Linked DNA regions of Homo sapiens. The protein of the gene in region 4 binds, or shares a complex with, the protein of the main gene of each other region. Each region holds a gene or a part of one and is shown on either strand. Other genes may lie near its edges.

Evidence for each region.
Region 1: TAF11 (region 4) and TBP share a complex: the UniProt entries of both Homo sapiens proteins name them as parts of the TFIID basal transcription factor complex.
Region 2: TAF11 (region 4) and TAF6 share a complex: the UniProt entries of both Homo sapiens proteins name them as parts of the TFIID basal transcription factor complex.
Region 3: TAF11 (region 4) and TAF1 share a complex: the UniProt entries of both Homo sapiens proteins name them as parts of the TFIID basal transcription factor complex.

The regions. Positions count from the first base shown.
Region 1 is NC_000006.12:170,553,135-170,557,168, reverse strand, and holds the start of TBP (TATA-box-binding protein), read right to left. Parts: upstream 2,801-4,034; 5' UTR 2,706-2,800; intron 288-2,705; 5' UTR 140-287; coding exon 86-139; intron 1-85. Other genes in the region: PSMB1 (proteasome subunit beta type-1), read left to right, coding at 3,927-4,034. UniProt on the Homo sapiens protein: The TFIID basal transcription factor complex plays a major role in the initiation of RNA polymerase II (Pol II)-dependent transcription.
Region 2 is NC_000007.14:100,112,859-100,116,358, reverse strand, and holds part of TAF6 (transcription initiation factor TFIID subunit 6), read left to right. Parts: intron 1-60; exon of another isoform or gene 61-513; intron 514-2,090; coding exon of another isoform or gene 2,091-2,149; coding exon 2,150-2,305; intron 2,306-2,404; coding exon 2,405-2,491; intron 2,492-2,589; coding exon 2,590-2,743; intron 2,744-2,953; coding exon 2,954-3,010; intron 3,011-3,441; coding exon 3,442-3,500. UniProt on the Homo sapiens protein: The TFIID basal transcription factor complex plays a major role in the initiation of RNA polymerase II (Pol II)-dependent transcription.
Region 3 is NC_000023.11:71,372,857-71,376,356, forward strand, and holds part of TAF1 (transcription initiation factor TFIID subunit 1), read left to right. Parts: intron 1-2,310; coding exon 2,311-2,430; intron 2,431-3,500. UniProt on the Homo sapiens protein: The TFIID basal transcription factor complex plays a major role in the initiation of RNA polymerase II (Pol II)-dependent transcription.
Region 4 is NC_000006.12:34,881,543-34,885,042, forward strand, and holds part of TAF11 (transcription initiation factor TFIID subunit 11), read right to left. Parts: exon of another isoform or gene 1,896-3,500; coding exon of another isoform or gene 1,857-1,895; intron 1,539-1,856; coding exon 1,390-1,538; intron 1-1,389. UniProt on the Homo sapiens protein: The TFIID basal transcription factor complex plays a major role in the initiation of RNA polymerase II (Pol II)-dependent transcription.

The DNA of each region.
Region 1 (4,034 bases), about 140 Mb from region 4:
ATTAAATGCCCTTCCTTGCCTTTTGATACCATCTCTTGCAGTTCAGATTTCCGCCCTCCCTATTCTCTCCCTCCTGCTATATTACCTGAGGGGAGGCCAAGCCCTGAGCGTAAGGTGGCAGGCTGTTGTTCTGATCCATGATGTTCACTTTCTTCTTGGCAAACCAGAAACCCTTGCGCTGGAACTCGTCTCACTATTCAATTTTTTCCTAGAGCATCTCCAGCACACTCTTCTCAGCAACTTCCTCAATTCCTTGGGTTATCTTCACACGCCAAGAAACAGTGATGCTGCTTTGGAAAAAAGTCTAAAGTTTAATTTAAGGATCCAGGTAACCTGTACAGTCCTATAAGCCAGTTCTATGGCTATACAAAACACAAACATGAAAACCAATGAAGCTATTTTGGAATACATTTGTTTTTACCTTATAATCCTAAAGTTTTATTCCTTCCATGTTTCCGGCGATTGCATGTAAAATCGCCAACAAAACAAAAATCATTTTGTTACATGTTTAAATAATCGGAAAATGCTCAAAATCGAGCTGTCATAACCAGCATTAAAAACTTTTGAGGAAAAACACCTAGAGAAAAATAATTCCTAAGCAAAATGTAATATCAGAGCAGAATATTCACTAAGCACTGTATACACAGCACTGTTAGGCAAAGTTTAGATCTTTAAATATTCCAATTTTACATCCTCTACAATGTCTTGGGCAAAAAATTAAGTAAATATCAAATTCAATCCAATATACTTCAGAGTGATCATTTATCAAGCTCCTACTGTAATGAAACTGTTAAAAAAAAAAAAGCCGCACAAAGATAAAGCCCTGAATTTTTATAAATGTAATAACCTTACCTCTTTAGAACACATTAATGCAAACTGTGCCTGTTATCTGACTTTTCTTAAATCATCATCGCTTTACTCACTACACATCTGAAATGAGTTTATAACAACATATTCTCACATAGAACTTAGAGGTCTCAAAGTTACAAATTATATGTCCAAAGATCCTTCAGGCATATGCACTTCAAGCATGTGCTGGTACAGAACAGACACTCAGATATTTGCTGAATGTATGAAAGACTCTGACGATCACTTTGAAAGGGCAAAGGCCCCCAAAGACTATCTATCCTACATACTCATCACTGAAAAACAGACCAAAAAAGAAAGCAAGCTCTGCTTCTGGAAATAAATATATCAGAGATATTTTTTAAAATATACTTTTTTTTTGACAGTTATCCTATAATAACAATAACAGAAGTCCTGCAGATGAGGATATAAAGATAGGAGGATATAGTCCTTGGCATCAAAGTGTTCAATATGAAGGGTATGCAAATAACTACTGTAAAACATAGTATTATAACAGCAGGTATGGTCTAAGCTAAGTTCCTTGAATGCAGAAACCAGCCTACATGTCTTTGTGATCTCTGCATCTAGCACTATGCCTGGAATACAGTATGTGATCATGAATGAGCCCATATACACCCCTGGAAGAGAAGACAATATAGACTAACAGCCAATCACTGTGAAGAGAGCGCAGTGTTTTCACAAAGCAGGGACCATCTAACTTGGGTCTCACAAGGTGAGTAGGAATTTACACATCAGGGCTTCAGACAAAAGAGAAATCAAGCAGAAAGAGACAGATTGAAAAAGCATGCAGTATGCAGGCAACAAGCTTAGTATGACTGTATAGAAGGTCACTGCAGCAGATGAGACAGCACATATTGGTGGGCTCATACTATCAGGAGTTTTCAATGTTATTGCATAGGCAATAATAACAGTTATGGAATTTCGGAAGTGCAGTATGAACAGATCTAATTTGGCAAGACTAGATGAATTTGAGAGGAGTAAAACTGGAGGACGGAAGTTTCGTTTCAGGAATCTAAGGTTGAGGCAAGAGATAATGACGGCAGGATTTAAAGCCATTATAAGTATGATTAGAGATTTATCCAGGACCTTCGGTGGCTTCAGGCCACTTTTTGCAAGTAAGTCTACAGAAGAAACCGCACAGTGATTACTGCACTAATTTATCCTCAGAAAAGAGTTGTTTGCTGGGTATCTTCATCTCCTGGAAATTGAAACATCAAATCCGATATTTTTTGGAGGCAATCAAATTAATTCTGCATAGCCTTCTAGTGTCTGTATAACTAAATGAAGCACAGTCTTTTCACAGAAAAGTCTACCTAGAGATTTGGAAAACCATGATGGCCTGAACCGAGAGACGGGAGACCCTGCAAATAAAGTGGTGTGTATTATATCTTAAGCGCTACCGTGCCCGCTGTCTCAGGCTTCTGACAAAATATTTAAGTCTCAATGTTGGCAGCAAAACAGGCGGGCACAGATCTGGGTGAATCTGCTTCTAACATGGAGAAGAAGCGGATGGCAGGACAGGGCAGGGTAAACTTAGGGTCTTCGATGCAAGGGACTGTCCTGTCCCGCCTGCCGCCGCCCAGCCAGCCAGTAGTACCCTGAGCCCCACAATCGTACGATGGGAAGCTGCCTGCGAAACACAGCAGAGTAGGGCACCAGGCGGGAGTGGCGGCCGAGTGGCCGTTACAGGCCGGAACGGCGGCAGCACGAAAGGGAGGAACGTCCCCCGAGGGGCCTGCACGCGCGCCAATTCCTAGTCTCTTCCCCACCATTGCCCCCAGGCCTCAGTGCAGTGGTGGCCTTCGCCCGAACCGTCAGAAAAGAGTACAATCTGTTACCTGGGTCACTGCAAAGATCACTATGGGCCAGCGGAAGCGAAGTTAAACAGCCGGCGGCCCAGGCGCCCGCCACAGCGAACCTGCCCGACCTCACTGAACCCCTGGCGCGCGTTGATAATGTCACTTCCGCCAGTTCTGCCCTCGGCTTCAGCGAGTTGCTCCCACTAGGGCCGAGGCCATGAGAAGTGTGAGCATAGGTCACTTCCTGTGTTTCCATAGGTAAGGAGGGGCGAAGCTCTTGAGGAGTTCCGGGGCGGGGCCGCCGTGCCACAGCCATCTCTAATTGGCCCTTGCTGGACGTAGGAAAGATCGATTTTTAAATGGCGTGTGTGTGTATATGTGTGAGTGTGTTTTGTTGTTGTTGTTGTTGTTGTTTAAAGCAACTAGCGGCGTTACCTTCGACAAGTTACCTGACCTCTCCCCCGCATTTTTTTTCTGTAAAATTGAATAATGATAACAGTGCTTACCCTTGGGCTGTCGGGAGATTGACAGAGATTGACAGAATCAGTGCCTGAGCAGTGCTTGGCACTCAGTAAGCGCGTCCTCCTTACCTGTCAGCAAGAACGCTAGCTGATCTTCAAGCGTGTAGAATGACAAGGAACACTAAGCAAAACAAACAGCTTGTGTTTACACATGCATTTATATTCAGTTCTGCCACTCCCAGTTCATGCACTGTTGTCACATGGCTCTTTCCGCAGTTGTTTCTTAGTGGGACTTCAGCACGCCTTGATTTTCCCTTCTGTAGTTCATTGTGGCGTAATCATATGTTATACTGCTTGTTTTCTTTGTACTTTTTATTATCAGTGAGGTTGTGAGCTCTTTAAGGATAGGAAATGTTATATACATTTTTTATTAGCCAGGACAATTAACGTTCCCACCGTTATTCGAGTTGCCGTTGCGCCATAGTTCTGACAATTTTTTTGTATGGTCAGACTTAAATTTTTGTCCATTGGGGTGAATTCCAATGTTTTCTTCGAGGGGGAAAAAAACAAAAAACAAACAAAAAAAACCCTTTACATCCCTGTCAGCGCTTTTTGGAATGGGCGGGATTCAACTACCAAAGGGACAAGCCGCCGTGCAGCCCTCCAGGAGCAACGACTAGCGTGAGATAGAGAGGCCGGGAGCGAACTTCAGGAGAAGCCGGAAGTGGCGTAACGTCCGGTCAAGGCAGCCATCTCGCCGTGAGACAGCAAGTGTCGGATCCGCAGGCGCAGCCGTGCGATGTTGTCCTCTACAGCCATGTATTCGGCTCCTGGCAGAGACTTGGGGATGGAACCGCACAGAGCCGCGGGCCCTTTGCAGCTGCGATTTTCGCCCTACGTTTTCAAC
Region 2 (3,500 bases), on a different chromosome or scaffold from region 4:
CCTGAGATGGGGTTTTGCTATGTTGCCCAGGGTGGTCAGGAATTCCTAAGCCCAAGCAGTCTTCCCACCTCACCCTCCCAAAGTGCACAGATTACAGGCATGAGCTGAGCCACTGCACCTGCCCATTATAAGGATTTCAGGTTTTACTTTATGGCAAGTGGAGAGCCATTATGAGGGTTTGAGCAAAGAAATGACAATCTGCTTTACAGTTTGACAGAAGCATTTTGGCTGCAACGTTAGGAATAGATGTAGAGAAAGGCAAGGGTAGACTCCGGTTGACATTGTTAGGAGGTTTTTGGAGTTACCCAGTGGATAGATGATGGTGACCTGGGCCAAGCAGTGGGAGCAGAGGAGTCAGGTTGGACTACCTGGTGGATTGATTGATTTTTGAGACAGAGTCTCGCTCTGTCGCCAGGCTGGAGTCCAGTGGCACGATCTTGGCTCACTGCAACCTCCACTTCCCAGGTTCAAGTGATTCTCTTGCCTCAGCCTCCCGAGTAGCTGGGACTACAGGTGCGTGCCACCACGCCAAGCTAGTTTTTGTATTTTTAGTAGAGATGGGATTTCACCATGTTGGCCAGGATGGTCTCCATCTCTTGACCTGGTGATCCGTCCGCCTCGGCCTCCCAAAGTGCTGGGATTACAGGTGTGAGCCAACGCGCCCGACCGGATTTATTTTTTTACCTTTTTTTTTTTTTTGAGACAGAGTCCATCTGTCACTGAGGCTGGAGTGCAATGGCGCAATCTCAACTCACTGCAAACTCTACTGCCGAGGCTCAAGTGATTCTCCTGCCTCAGCCTCCCAAGTAGCTGGGATTACAGGCACGCGCCACCATGCCCAGCTAATTTTTGTATTTTTAGTAGAGAAAGGGTTTTACCATGTTGCTCAGGCTGGTCTCGAACTCCTGACCTGAAGTGATCCACCCACCTTGGCCTCCCAAATTGCTGGAATTACAGACGTGAGCCACCGCACCTGGCCTACCTGGTGGATTTGATGTGAAGGCTCAGATAAAGAACAAGTGTCTGGATGGATGGCATTGCTATGAAGATAAGGAAAGCTGAGCCTGGGCCAGACACTTCGGCTCACGCCTTTAATTCCAACACTTTGAGAGGCCAACGCTGGAGGATTGCTTGAGCCCAAAACTTCAAAGTGGTGGGATTGAAGCCCTGAGGTGTAACAGAAAAAGATAAAAATCTGGGCTGGGCCTGGTGGCTCAGGCCTGTAATTCCAACACTTTGGGAGGCCGAAGCAGGAGGACTGCGTGAGCCCAGCAGTTCAAGACCAGCCTGGACAACATAGTGAGACTCTGTCTCTGCCCCTGCCCCTGCAAAAAATTGGCTGTGTGTAGTGGTACACACCTATAGTCCCAGCTACTTGGGAGGCTGAGGTGTGAGGATTGCTTGAGCCTAGGAGCTCCTGGGCTCTATCAGTTTTCCCACCTCTGCCTCCTGAGTAGCTAGAACAACAGCCCTGTGCCTGCATACCCAGCTAATTTTTGTATTTTTTGTACAGATGGGGTCTCACTGTGTTGTCCAGGCTGGTCGTGAACTGCTGGGCTCAAGCGATCCTCCTACCTTGGGCTCCCAGAGTGTTGGAATTACAGGCATGAGCCACTAGGCCCAGTCCAGATTTTTTTTTTTTTTTTCCTGAGACGGAGTCACCCTGGCTGGAGTGCAGTGGCGTGATCTCGGCTCACTGCAACCTCTGCCCTCTGGTTTCAAGTGATTCTCGTGCCTTAGTCTCCCTAGTAGCTGGGATTACAGGTGTGCACTACCACGCCCTGCTAATTTTTGTATTTTTAGTAGAGATGGGGTTTCTCCATGTTGGCCAGGCTGGTCTCGAATTCCTGACCTCAAGTGATCCGCCCGCCTCGTCCTCCCAAAGTGCTGGTGGGATTACAGGCGTGAGCCACTGAACCTGGCCCCAGCCCAGATTTGTATCTTTCTCTGTTACACCTCAGGGCTGACTCACGTGGGGATGGACATAAGACACTCGGAGTTCCTCCCCTGTCTCCACTGTCCTCCCTTTGTTGGCCCTCTCCCTGTGTCTCACGTTTCTTTTTCTTCTGCCTGCCCCGTTCCTCTGCCAGGGTCTCCGTCTCTCCACCGGGGGCTTCATCCTTCCAGGGAGGAGAAGAGGGACTCCAGAATGGCTGAGGAGAAGAAGCTGAAGCTTAGCAACACTGTGCTGCCCTCGGAGTCCATGAAGGTGGTGGCTGAATCCATGGGCATCGCCCAGATTCAGGAGGAGACCTGCCAGCTGCTAACGGATGAGGTCAGCTACCGCATCAAAGAGATCGCACAGGTGACCCGGCCCTTCTGTCCAGCTCTACATTGGGTCCATGTCACCCAGGGCCCCGTCCTTAGGATTTTGGGCTGATGTCTGTTCTGTCACCGACCCCAGGATGCCTTGAAGTTCATGCACATGGGGAAGCGGCAGAAGCTCACCACCAGTGACATTGACTACGCCTTGAAGCTAAAGAATGTCGAGGTGATTTGGGGAGACAGGCGGGGGGGGGGTGAGACGCCATCCTTCAGCCAGGTCTCCTCCGGCTCCCTTCTTACCCATGCCCCTCTCTCCTGCCACAGCCACTCTATGGCTTCCACGCCCAGGAGTTCATTCCTTTCCGCTTCGCCTCTGGTGGGGGCCGGGAGCTTTACTTCTATGAGGAGAAGGAGGTTGATCTGAGCGACATCATCAATACCCCTCTGCCCCGGGTGCCCCTGGACGTCTGCCTCAAAGGTTGGGGGAGGGGAGAGCAGGGTGGCAGGGAGGAGGGAAAGGAGGACAGATGTGTGTAGGTGTGAGGAGCCTCACAATAGAAGAAAAGCTCAGTGTGAGATCCCTGGTGAGTTGCAAGGGGAGCAGGAGTGGAAACACGCTTCCATAGCATGGGGCAACTCCCCAATGTCCATGCGTGGCAATTCACCTTGACACCTGCCTTCCTTGCAGCTCATTGGCTGAGCATCGAGGGCTGCCAGCCAGCTATCCCCGAGAACCCGCCCCCAGGTAACCTCCATGCCCCACCCTCTGGGTCTCTGGGTCCCTTTCCCCTTCCTTCCACCTTTTTTTTTTGAGACAGAGTCTCACTCTGTTGCCTGTGCTGGAGTGCAGGAGTGCTGGAGTGCAGTGGCTCAATCTTGGCTCACTGCAAACCTGTGCCTCCTGGGTTCACGCGATTCTTGTGTCTCAGCCTCCTGAGTAGCTGGGACTACAAGCACACACCACCACGCCCGGCTAATTTTTTGTAATTTTAGTAGACACGAGGTTTCACCATGTTGGCCAGGCTGGTCTCGAACTTCTGACCTGAGGTGATCCACCCGCCTTGGCCTCCCAAAGTGCTGGGATTACAGGCATGAGCCACCGCATCCGGCCTCCTCCCACCTTTTACTTTTCTACTATGCTCATCACCCCTCCCGCTGTGCCTGCTTTCCCACCAGCTCCCAAAGAGCAACAGAAGGCTGAAGCCACAGAACCCCTGAAGTCAGCCAAGCCAGGC
Region 3 (3,500 bases), on a different chromosome or scaffold from region 4:
CTATACTTACTTTTTTGTTTGTTTGTTTGAGACAGAGTCTCGCTCTGTCACCCAGGCTGGAGTGCAGTGGCGCGATCTCAGCTCACTGCAAGCTCCGCCTCCCAGGTTTACGCCATTATCCGGCCTCAGTCTCCGGAGTAGCTGGGACTACAGGCACCCACCACCAGGCCAGGCTAATTTTTTGTATTTTTAGTAGAGACGGGGTTTCACAGTGTTAGCCAGGGTGGTCTCGATCTCCTGACCTCGTGATCCACCCACCTCAGCCTCCCAAAGTGCTGGGATTACAGGCGTGAGCCTCTGTGCCTGGCCACTTTTTTTTTTTTTTTTTTGAGACAGAATCTTACTGTGTTGCCCAGGCTGGAGTGCAGTGGCGCAATCTCGGTTCACTGTAACCTCTGCCTCCCCGGTTCAAGCATTTCTCCTGCCTCAGCCTCCTGAGTAGCTGGGACTACAGGCCCGTGCCACCTCTCCCAGCTAATTTTTTGAATTTTAGTGGAGACTGAGTTGCACCATGTTGCCTAGGCTGGTCTTGAACTCCTGAGCTCAGGCAATCCGCTCGCCTCAGCCTCCCAAAGTGCTGGGATTACAGGTGTGAGCCACCTCACTGGCCCTATACTTACTATTTGTAATGATCAATTGGATAAATGTATATTGGGGGTTATGAGATTGATGAAGGAGACAGTGGACTAAAGCCATAAGCTGGGAAAATGCATATGGATGTGATGTTGATAGGGAATTTAAAAGAGATAAAGGATATTTCAGTGTTTTATAAGGTACAGCTGTTAAATATCTGAGTAGAAAGTTTCCTTAGGAAGCAGAAGAGTCGTGGAGTTGTAGAGGAGGTAAATTAGGGCCGCATATGTAGATTTGGGTTTAATCTAGGTGAAGGTGATTCTTGAGAGAGGGAATAGGGAACGTATAGGGGAATAAAAGCAGAGTCTTTAGGACGAATTCTTGAGTGATGCCAATGGTTAAGGGGCAGTGAAAAGAGTAATAAACTGCAGATGACAGATAGAAAAAGTGTGTCATCTCTCATTTGAGAGATGAAAGACCAGTCTTAAGGGAAACTGACAGAGGGAGAAGATTCCCAAAGTGCTGGGATTACAGGTGCGAGCCACTGTGCCTGGCCCAGTATGAAAATTCTAAAAAAGATATGGTCAGGAAAGGAGCAAATGTTTCAAGCAGCTCTTGGAAACGCTTTCATATGTTGTATGATTTTTTCTTTTCTTTCTTTCTTTTTTTTTTTTGAGACAGTTTCACTGTGTCGCCCAGGCTGGAGTGCAGTGGCGCAATCTCGGCTTACTGCAACCTTCACCTCCCGGTTCAAGTGCTTCTTGTGCCTCAGCCTCCCAAGTAGCTGGGATTACAGGCACATGCCACCACTCCTGGCTAGTTTTTGTATTTTTGACAGAGATGGGGTTTTGTCATGTTGGCCAGGCTGGTCTCTGAACTCCTGACCTCAGGTGATCTGCCCGCCTCAGCCTCCCAGAGTGCTGGCGTGAGCCACCATGCCCAGCCATCATATCTTGTGTGAGATATTATATATGTTATAGCAATTGACTTGCACCGTGATGTCATCTCTTTCTGAAGGCTAAAGCTATGTTTCAGATAGATATGTAAAATATTTTGAGGCATGGTCTTGCTCTGTCACACGATTACTGCTCATCAAAGCCTTGACCTCCTGGGCTCAAACTGTCTCCCGACCTCAGCCTCCTGAGTAGCTGGTACTACAGGCGTGTGCCACCACGCCTAGCTAATTTTTGTATTTTTTGTAGAGATGGGGTTTCTCCATGTTGTTTAGGCTGGTCTTGAAATTCTGGGCTCAAGTGATCTGCCCATCTTGGCCTCCCAAAGTGCTGGGATTACAGGCGTGAGCCATCATGCCTGGCCCTCACCTTGCTTTTTTCACTTGTGTGTTCTTAAGGGATATGCATAGTGTTTCATGTGGTGCTTTAAATTATTGAGTGGCCCTGTAATCCCAGTACTTTGGGAGGCTGAGGCAGGTGGATCACAAGGTCAGGAGTTCGAGACCAGCCCGACCGACATGGAGAAACCCCGTCTCTACTAAAAATACAAAAATTAGCTGGGCGTGGTGGCACATTCCTGTAATCCCAGCTACTCAGGAGGCTGAGGCAGGAGAACTCGGGAGGTGGAGGTTGCAGTCAGCTGAGATTGCACCGCTGCACTCCAGCCTGGGCGACAGAGCAAGACTCTGTCTCAAAAAAAAAAAAAAAATTGAGTGGCAAGGAAGCTTAAGGCGGTTGTATAATATTTTGGATATTGAGGAGATCACCTTCTTGGTTTTATTAGATTATGATGAAGATGACTATGATGCTGATTGTGAAGACATTGATTGCAAGTTGATGCCTCCTCCACCTCCACCCCCGGGACCAATGAAGAAGGATAAGGACCAGGATTCTATTACTGGTGGTAAGTAGAGATTGTCTACTTTTGTCTGAGGAGCAAGTTTTCATTCCTAAGTCCAGGCTTGTGGCACACACATAAGGGACAAACTTAAGCTTATATGAAGGGACAAAACTTCTAGAAATAATTCATACAATCGCAAATTTTAGTATTAAAGGGAAGTTTTACTTTTAAAACATTTGGCAACAGTATTTTAACATGTGCTCAAGAAATAGTAGTTTAGTCAGTGGTTCTCAAATCTGGCTACCCATCAGAATCACTTAGAATCTTTAAAAAAAAAAAACAAATACCTGACTTTCACCCCTTGAGCCTGATTCAGAAGATCTTGGGTAGAGTCCAGGAATTTAATTAAATTAATTAAAATTTTTTTGAGAAAGAGTCTTGCTGTGTTGTGCAGGTTGGAGTGCAGTAGCACGATCTTGGCTCACTGCAACCTCCGCCTCCCGGGTTCAAGTGATTCTCATGCCTCAGCCTCCAGAGTAGGGGCTGGAACTCCTGACCTCAAGTGATCCGCTCGCCTTGGTCTTCCAAAGTGCTGGGATTACAGGCGTGAGCCACTGCTCCCTGCCGAACCCGGGAATCTTAAAGAGTTTCTTAAGTAATTTATGATACAACTGATCTGTATACTGGTATTTGGAAACTACTTGTTTAGATGGCTTTATTTTAAATGAAGTGGTTAAATTAGGAAGGTGCCCTGGAATGTTGATAAATCAGATAGTGTCAACTACCAGATATTCAGAGATTTCAAAGGCTAGTAGAGTCTTCAGTGTTTATCTTACCTATTCCTATAACAGTAACTGTCCTAGGCTTGAAAACTGGGGAAGAGCAGTGTTTTTGACCTCCTGTATTTTGAGGCTTGTATTAACCTAAATTCTTCCTGTTGGAGTTTTAAGCCATTTCTTTTAACAGTCTGCTAAATGTCAGCTGTTAACTTTGTTTTATAGATCTTATTTATGCCAAAGAACCTTAATGTTGTCCCGTGGGCTTAAAAAAATTCTCCAGCTCATGAGTCTCTGAACTAGGACTACCTGAGTGGTATAAAGTATTACATAGTTTTGCTATTGGTCACAACATTG
Region 4 (3,500 bases):
GGAAAACATTCACCATATCTAATGTGAAAAATAGGCTACAAAACAGTATTTGACATTTGTGGAAAAAAAAATTTATAGATATATATGTATAGAAACTATCTTGAAACTTATAAGCAGGATATATCTCTGTGGTAAGGTAATTATTTTTTCTTCTTATCTATTTATTTTTTTTGAGACAGCATCTGGCTCTATCGCCCAGGCTGGAGTGCAGTGGCGCAGTCTTGGCTCACTGCAACCTCTGCCTCCTGGGTTCAAGTAATTCTCCTACCTCAGCCTCCCGAGTAGCTGGGACTACAGGCACCCACCACGACACCTGGCTAATTTTTTGTAATTTTAGTAGAGACGGGGTTTCACCATGTTGGCCAGGCTGGTCTCAAACTCCTGACCTCAAGTGATCCACCCGCCTCAGCCTCCCAAAGTGCTGGGATTACAGGTGTGAGCCACCGATCTCGGCCTTCTTTTTATCTATTTATATTTTCTATGCTGTAACATAATTATTTGAAAAAATTGTTTTTGGCCAGGCACAGTGGCTCACACCTGTAATCCCAGCATTTTGGGAGGCTGAGGCGGGCGGATCACGAAGTCAGGAGTTCGAGACCCGCCTGGCCAACATGGCAAAAACCTGTATCTACTAAAAATACAAAAATTAGCCAGGCATGGTGGCAGGAGCCTGTAGTCCCAGCTACCTGGGAGGCTGAGGCAGGAGAATCGCTCGAAACCAGAAGGCGGAGGTTGCAGTGAGCAGAGATTGCACCACCGCACTCCAGCCTGAGCAACGAGAGCGAAACTCTGTCTCAAAAAAAAAAAATTTTAAATAGAGGCCGGGCACAGTGGCTCATGCCTGTAATCCTAGCACTTTGGGAGGCCGAGGCGGGCAGATCACGTGAGGTCATGAGTTCAAGACCAGCCTGGCCAACATAGTGAAACCCTGTCTCTACTAAAAATACAAAAATTAGCTGGGCATGGCGGTGCATGCCTGTAGTCCCAGCTACTCGGGAGGCTGAGGCATGAGAATCGTTTGAACTCAGGATGTGGAGGCTGCAGTGAGCCGAGATCACACCATTGCACTCCAGCCTGGGCGACACAGTGAGACTCTATCTCAAAAAAATAAAAAATAAAAAAAAAAACATAACATAACATAACATTAGAGAAAGGGTTTCACTATGTTGCCCAGGCTGGTCTCAAACTTAGGCCTCAAGAAATCCTCCCACCTTGGCCTTCTAAAGTGTTGGGATTACAGGCGTGAGCCACCATGCCCAGCCATAATGTATTAATCGTTTTATTTTCTTTTGAGTTTATAAAAGAAAATTTAAACACCAAGAAAAATTTATTAAATTTGTGTGGTCAAGTGAGAGCCTCGAAATGGGGAATGATAAGAAAGTGACTTACTGCATCTTCTGAATCTCATCTTCATCTACTTTCTGCTTTTTCTCTTTCTTTTCTTTGGTATCTATTTTCAGTTTTTTGGCTGCAGGATTAAGTAATGATGAGTCTTCCCTTTCAACTGTTGTTAAATCTGAGACATCCTGACTCTCGAGCTGGGAAGATGAAAGAAACTCTATTATATATTTGGCCTACTTTCCAGGCTTGGGCAAAGTAAGAAGACATCATCCTTATCACAAAACAACAAATCCATTTATTGAGTAGTTTTTCAGTTCTAGGCACTGACTGTACCATCAAGGATAAGATACAGTATCTCTCCTAAGGGAAGATTATGGCTCAGCTATGGAAAGAAAACCTGCTAAATAATCTAGTTTTCCAGTTTGGCTATGAGCACAGCTCCAGTATCTGTTTACAAGGGTAATGAAATGCCATGGATCATGAAAATCACCCTCCCCCGGGCCCACTCTTCTGACCTTATTTTTCAGAGGGGATGTCAGCAAAGTCCCCTCCATCCAGCCAGCTCTTCTGCTTCCAGATCTATAGATCTCTTTACTGCTGATGATTCCACATGGAAAGAATATTAAAAAGGAGGCCCCTTCTCATCAAAACAGTGTTTATTTCAATTTGGGACTTTCAAGTGAGCTTCTCACACGTAGTGCTCTTTTGTTCTTATTCTTCAATCCTACTGTTTCATGCAAATGTTTATTTCACATTACTAGTCTTTTTGAAGATAGGTTTGTCTCTTATTATTTATATCTCCCCCCCATCAGCATTTAATGCAATTTTACTTATGCTGGATGTTTAATAAATGCCTGTTCAAACCCCACTTAAAAGTAGGCAAAGACACTTCTCAAAACAAGACATACCTGTGGCCAACAATCATGTGAAAAAAAGGTCAGCTTCACTGATTAGAGAAATGCAAATCAAAACCATAATGAGATACCATCTCATATCAGTCAGAATGGCTATTATTCAAAAGTCAAAAAATAACAGATACTGGCAAGGTTGTGGAGGCAAAGGAAAGCTTTTAAACTCTTGGTTGGAGTATAAATCAGTTCACCATTGAGGAAGGCAGTGTGACAATTCCTCAAAGACCTAAAGACAGAATTACCATTTGACCCAGCAATCCCATTACTGGGTATATACCCAAAGGAATATAAATTGTTCTATTATAAAGACACATCCACACTTATGTTCATTGCAGTGCTATTCACAATAGCAAAGACATGGAATCAACCTAAATGCCCATCAATGGTAGACTGGATAAAGAAAATGTATTTTCCAGTATACACCATGAAATACTATACAGCCATAAAAAAGGAGATCATGTCCTTTGCAGGGACATGGATGGAGCTGGAGACCATTATCTTTAGCAAACTAATGTAGGAACAGAAAACCAAATACTGCATGTTCTCACTAATAAGTGGGAACTAAATGATGACAGCACACGGACACATAGAGGGGAACACACACTGGGGTATATGGAAGGGTGAAGGGTATATGGAAGGATGAAGGGTGGCAGGAGGGAAAGGATCAGGAAAAATAACTAAGGGACACTAGGCTTAATACCTGGGTGATGAAATAATCTATACAACAAACCCCTATGACACACATTTACTTATGTAACAAAACCTGCACATCCTGCACATGTACCCCTGAACTTAAAAAACTGGCTGTTTAATAATAAAAATCAAATCCAAACTTCACCCCCTCTGACTTAATGTAGAATCTTAAGTATACTACAAAACTCATTAATGAGATTTAACTTGTCCCTAAAGAGGAATTCAAATTTAAACTCATACAGGAATATGGGAATAGGTGGGATGAAGGTAGTCTATCTTTGACAATCTTTTCAATTTCTTTTTAGTTACTGATTTATACAAGTTTTCTAACTGTGCTTCAAGTTTGGTGGTTTGTATTTTCCTTTAAAAAATCACCTATTTTTCTCAGATTTTCACATTTATTTGGCCTAAACTTGAACATTAAATGTCTTTATAACTTTAAAGATCTCCATATTAGTGCCTATAGCCTTTCATATTTTGTAATGTTATACATTTACATTTTAAATAATGTTTTAATTTTATCATTTATGTTTTTTAATGTGCTAATTCATTAGT